Regions from separate parts of the Homo sapiens genome. Here region 1 is linked to region 2. Evidence: fine-mapped QTL for protein levels in blood plasma. Region 2 holds a variant in brackets. A gene starts in the other region. All regions are shown on their forward strands.

Region 1 (2,829 bases), not on the chromosome of region 2:
AAACCAAAAAGAGACAGGAGAGTCATTCATGCTGATGGAGTGAGCCAGGTACCAGGATCTCGATATCTAAGCATGCCCCCTTCTCCAACAGCCTCCTTACCTTCCTGCATGAAAGCACACCCTTCCCTCCAGTCCCCCATTCCTTTATTCTGCTGTATTTTTCTCCATAACACTTACCACCTTTGAACATACTACATATACAACATGTGTCTGTCTAGCAACTTTGCTGTCTGGCTCTCTTCCCTAGAATTTAAGCTGTGAGAGGCCGAGGCTGCTGTCTGCCTGGCTTGGGGCTGCTTTCCTGGTGTCTAGCACAGAGCCTGGCCTGTTTCAGGGGCTCAGTGAAACATTTGTTGGCTGAAGGAATGAATGAATGGCTCTAGCAGAGGGGCAGAAACTAACGATGCAGGAGGAGAGAGCTGGGAAGGGATCCAGAGCCAGGGCCTGGCAGGAAGTGTAGGTGTGTCCTCCCTGATCGCAGAGGAGGAGAGAGGCTGCACTTTGAGGGGTGGAAAGACAAGGTGAATCCCCCTGCTGGTCATCAGCTTGTGCGGCTCTGTGGGTGTAAAAGAGTGGTTTGGAGCATGTGAAGTGAGTCTTCCAGGAGATGAAGGGGATTGCCAGGCCGTTTGTGATGATGCTGAGATCTGGTGCCGTGCAGCCTGCTTCTGCGACTCTCCTCATCAGGCGCAGGCACAGAGTAGGTGGAGAGTTGAGCCAGAACCACGATGTCTTTGGCACAGCCTCTCATCTGTCAGATGGGAGCGGGGACCCCGGAGAGGGAGTCAGCCGAGGTCCTGGCATTCCTTGTGAACCCCCGTCTGTGGGTTTCTGGTCCAGTGTCCCTTCTCCAGATTAGATGGCTTAGGCCTCCTCTAAGGGGGTGGGCGTGCACATCCGGAGAGCTGTCTGGTGTGCAGGACTGGGCTGCAGGTTACCCTGAACTGCAACCATCTTAGAGCAAGGCCCAGCTTGCAGCAGGAGGAGCTGCAGGCCGCCCACCCTAGCCACGGCCCCTGCCCTGGCAGGAAGCTTCCAAGAGTAAACACTGCCTAATCGTCCCGCCCAGTAGTGAGCAGGCCTGTCCCATTCCATACTGACCAGATTCCCAGTCACCAAGGCCCCCTCTCACTCCGCTCCACTCCTCGGGCTGGCTCTCCTGAGGATGCACCAGCGTCACCCCCGGGCAAGATGCCCTCCCCTCTGTGTGGCCGGAATCCTTGCCTGTGGCTTTCTCCTGGGCTGCTGGGGACCCTCCCATTTCCAGCAGGTGGGCTCATTTGCAGGAGCGGGGGTATTCTGGGAGCCTCTGGGTGGGGTATTCTGAGCTACCTGGGGCGAGGGGAGTGCCAAATAGCTGACTACATCAGCTTTGGGGTTTGCGCTGGGCAGGGGAGTCTGTACTTGGGGCTTTGGGGGATGAAGTGTGCTCACTGAAGAGGGAGTTGGTGTCTCAGTACGACCTGCTCATTCGGTGAAGCTGAACAGACAGATACTAGTTTGTCCCAAACTGTGTAGGTTGCTCTTCTCTGCCTCTCCCTTCCTCTCCCTGTCTCTGATTTCCCCCTCTCCTTCTTGGTTGGCCTCACCCACCTCCTGCCTCCTGTCTCCCTCTTCATCCATCTCTTTTTGTTCTTTTTTCTTTCTCTCTCTCTCTTTTTTTTTTTTTTTTTTTTTTTAAGACATGGGGTCTTGTTATGTTGCCCCAGCTGGTCTCAAACTCCTGGACTCAAGTGATCCTCCCACCTCGGTCTCCCCAAGTGTTAGGATTACAGGCCAGAGCCACTATGCCCGGCCCCATCCATCTCTTTTTGTCTTGCAGAGTTGTCTTCAGGCTTTGGAGCCACAGGCCGTGTCTTCTTACTTGAGCCCTGGTGCTCCCTTAAAAGGTACTTGTCCTGGTGTCTTCTCTCCCGGGGGGAGTTTCTCAGGACTTTCAAGGGGTATCTCACCACTGAGTCAGTGGTCTGGGATTTTTGGTGGATCTGGAAGGAGAAGGTCAGAGAAGCTGCTGTCAACCCTGTTAATTAACTCTGTTACTTCCTGCCAAGTTGATATAAGCTGGTCTGGGTGTTCCAGCCAGGCCAGGGTTCTCACCCTAGCTTCTGTTAAATATCACAAGGGAACGGTCACCGATTGGCTGGCCCCTCCTGCCCCATGGCCTCTGCTGAGCTGGCTGATTTTCAGGAGCTCTTGTGGTTTCTGACCGTGGATGTAAATATTTATTCCTTCTGTGGGAAACAAGATAGGTACTGGCTCAGGCTACCTCCTAAGGCCATGGATTTCCTTATGATAAAGGCCTGTCCCCATTGCCCACAGGCCCATGTCTGTGACCTTCTCCGGTGCGAGCCCCCTTCCCAGTAGGGCCATTGGCAACTTGACTAATGGCTGATGGGGGCCAGAGGCAGGTGGGCTAGTGGTCAGGGGCAACAGGAGGGCAAGGCCCACTTTGTGACCTGGTTCTTTGTGGTCTAGGCCAGAGGCACACTGACCAGTGCCTGGGGCCACGCTGGGGGCTGGATGCAGCCGACGCTGTCTGGGTATCCCATAGCCTGGGTCCTTCCAGCGCTGCCGCTCCTGAAAGGCTGGGAGATCATTGCCCAGGGTCCCTGACCCTCTAAGGGCTCCCTTGGGAGAGGACAGTGAGGGCTGGCCTGGGCCCCTGCTTCCCAAGAGACCACTGGGCTCCACTCGTGTTCAGTTTCCTGTCGGGGTCCATGATGTTACTTGTGAAACACCTGTGCCCAGAGCAGGGTCCAGGAGGCAGGGCAGGGGCTTTCCCCTTTGGGCAGAGCCACCAGGGCAGTGGGAATCTTGTCTTGATGGGGT
Region 2 (2,961 bases):
ACTCATATCTTAAATGCTCTTTTACTACATGTTTGGCCTCAAATTCCTTTTTGAATAAGGTGGAGTACTATAAACAAACAATATTTAATGGCTGTTTTGCTGAATAAAAATATAACAGTTAACAGCTTTCTTCATTAACATGCTCGCCCAGGAGCTGGTTTAACTTTCCATAGCAAGACGTGGTCATCAAAATTCCTATTCCATATTTCCAAATGCTTTTTCTGTCATATTATTTACTGGAATTTAGATTATTATAAGCATACGTTCTATGAGGAAATTTTTTAAACTGATAACACCATAAAAACTACATCACCTGGGAGACTGAAGCTCTGGTTTAGATGAGAAAATTCTTTTCAGATCCACAGTTTCGATTTGCAGCAGGGATGACTCAGCCTCCGATAGCACACTGTGTATCCAATGCCTAGTGATTCAGCTTGGGACAGTTGGGATTATAGAAGAAGGAACAGATTTTCTTATAAAAACAAGTGGTTTTTTTCCTTCTTCATGCCTTACAATCTGTTCAAGAAACAAATATCATTCTTATCTTACCCTTAAGACAAAATTTTTGTCAGCCACAAAAAATCAAGTAAATATTAACCTTAGAATATCTGGAGTACAGTTCATCTAGAGAAAATGATAGATTCATTCTGGACAAGTAGGAAATAAAAGAATAGTAATACATATTTTCTATTGTGTACTTCCAGAGATAAAGTTGATTGATTTTTTTCCCAATTTTTTATTTTGAAAGATGTGAAGAATTATATAATGAACACCAACATATCTTAGGGTCATCCTTTTTTTAACAACTTGCTTCATTTGCTTTTTTCTTTCTTCATCTCTATGTATATTTTTTGTGCTTATTCACTTGAAAGTTAGTTGCAGTCAACATAACATTTTAGCCCCAAATACTTTAGCATATATCACCTTAAGAACAAGAATATTCTCCTATAAAACCATAATATAACATACCCAAGAAACATATTATCTAGTAGACAGTTGTTCCTCAATGCTTTATTGTTTCTGATCCAGGATCCAATAAAAAATTACACAGTGAATTTGGTTGTCTCTTTCGACTCCTTTAATCTGGAATGAGTTTTTAATTTGATACAGTGAAAATGCTTATTTTCAAAATTACTCAGTCTCTAGAGTATCATCAATTAATACTGTCAGCAAATAATCAGGAAGACAATCTTAGAAACCTGGCCAGATACCAAACT[TA/T]AAAAAAAAATCTATAATCATTTCACTGGAAAAAAAATTCCTTCCCAATTCAACCCATGTAAACCTCGGCCAGGTAAAGAACAAGAGAAGCAAACTTGAAAGTAACCAGGGGCTTAAACCATACAAACCCCATACATCAAGTTCAGCAGTTTGAATTGAATTGGTGGTCAGCCTACTTTGTGTAGTACAACAAGGTAAATGTGCTGGCAATACAGTAGAGCCAGCCGACAAAATAAATGTTCATTTTGACTGATACTTCACTATTCAAATACTCTGCCCTTCTTTCCCCCTGAAACCCTCAATGCCATTTTATATAAAAATTTAAACATATTCTGACAGTGGTTTTATGGATAATACTAATGAATACTATCATATTAAATTTCTGTTCGTTCTCTGAATACTTCTCTTCCTCCCAGTTTACATTATTTTGGGAAAAGCACATCTTTAATCTTTATTGGCAATAAGCTCGCCTCTTGTTATTCACTTTAGGAGAAAATCCTTATTAGAAATGCAGTGCTAAAAAGGTACCTAAGTCATCAATATTATGGTATTTCATGAATTGAATTTGATGTATCATACACAGATGCTTGCATTAAAGCATACAACTTATTTTGGTTCAATAAAATGTTAATACATTGTTTAGCATTTATAAACAAACGTACCATCTTCAGTGCTAAATACGCAAATGACAAATGTAACAAACATGATGAACTTATTTTCCAAATCCTGCATCATAGGCACATGAAATACTTTGGTTCACCTGAAACATAATCTTTCATCATAAGAAAGGGAATATTATGATGAGAGAGGAGTGATAGAAATGTGGCTGTTTTCCTGTTTTTGATTTTTATGTGAAACTTAAAAGTCAATAAGAGAGAGTGGATTTCAAATGCAAGGTAATGGACAAAGGCAGCAAAGGGGGGTTTCTATTGCCACCTAGTGTCTAACTTTATAAGGGACTTATTTTTGAACATGACAGCAGTCACACAATGTGAAACAGACTCTGAAACGGGAAAGGTAATTACGGCACTTTCCAGCCAAAGAATTTCAGTCTTTTTTTCTTATGGTCAACCTCCTGTCACTGTATAACTGGTCTATATATATAAAAATACCAAAAATTTCACATATTAAAGAGTGATATTTATGAAGATGGTGATTTGTGTATATATCATGATATATACATGTACATTTGAAATTAATTCCATTATTATTTTGGATCAGTATAACTATTTAGAAAGTATAATTCCTGATGAAACAAGAAATAGTTATCTGTCACACTTACTCCATTGATATTTACTTAAAATATTACTACGAAATTTTTTCACTTTTTTTTTTACTTTATGTAAAGCAATCTATTTAGTTTGGCTAACACATTTTATGTCCTCAAGGCTTTTGCCACCTTATAATTAGACTCTAATTTTAGAAATTGAATTGGTTATTGTGTCACTGTATAAACTACTTAATCTCCCTCCCCGCAAAAATGTCCAGCAGTTCACTGAAATAAGAAATCAATGGAGCAGATTTAACTAGCTTCAACTGTGCAATGAAAATATGCTAGTGAAAAGTTACTGGAGATATGCCCCAACATAACTGTAATCTAATGATCCAAATCAATACATATTTGAATAGTCAGTTATTTTTCATCCTTTTCATGTTGTGAGCATAATGCAGTCATGTAGATTATGCTGTCTGAGGAGTGGTTTAGATTGTTTTATTGGTCTGCAACATGATTGCCAAAGTACA

Which allele goes with the higher level. Alleles are on the strand shown, and positions count from the first base shown. The strength of an association depends on the size of the effect and on how common the allele is.
For the plasma level of the protein whose gene starts at base 1,089 in region 1, allele T in region 2 goes with a higher level than allele TA (weak association).

What was found. A credible set is the group of variants that fine-mapping cannot tell apart. PIP is the posterior inclusion probability: the model's chance that the variant is causal. The UK Biobank Pharma Proteomics Project read protein levels with antibody pairs (Olink). The fine-mapping took linkage between variants from a reference panel, not from the people measured, so its PIPs are less certain.
Region 1: it holds the start of ADAMTS13, and the variant in region 2 is the best candidate, but not a certain one, in a credible set for the plasma level of the ADAMTS13 protein (UK Biobank, PIP 0.58).

Annotation. Positions count from the first base shown.
Region 1 is chr9:133,421,279-133,424,107 of GRCh38, forward strand. ADAMTS13 (ADAM metallopeptidase with thrombospondin type 1 motif 13) reads left to right here and starts at 1,089. Exons shown (of 29, transcript NM_139027.6): 1 at 1,089-1,270; 2 at 1,823-1,889. The coding sequence starts at 1,166. RefSeq lists enhancers at 244-383, 614-663, 784-843.
Region 2 is chr4:174,154,274-174,157,234 of GRCh38, forward strand. The region is part of intron 1 of LINC02268 (long intergenic non-protein coding RNA 2268); the gene reads right to left. Among named protein-coding and RNA genes, the nearest start is that of LINC02268, 65 kb to the right of the region's middle. The variant TA/T (reference allele first, on the strand shown) is at 1,218.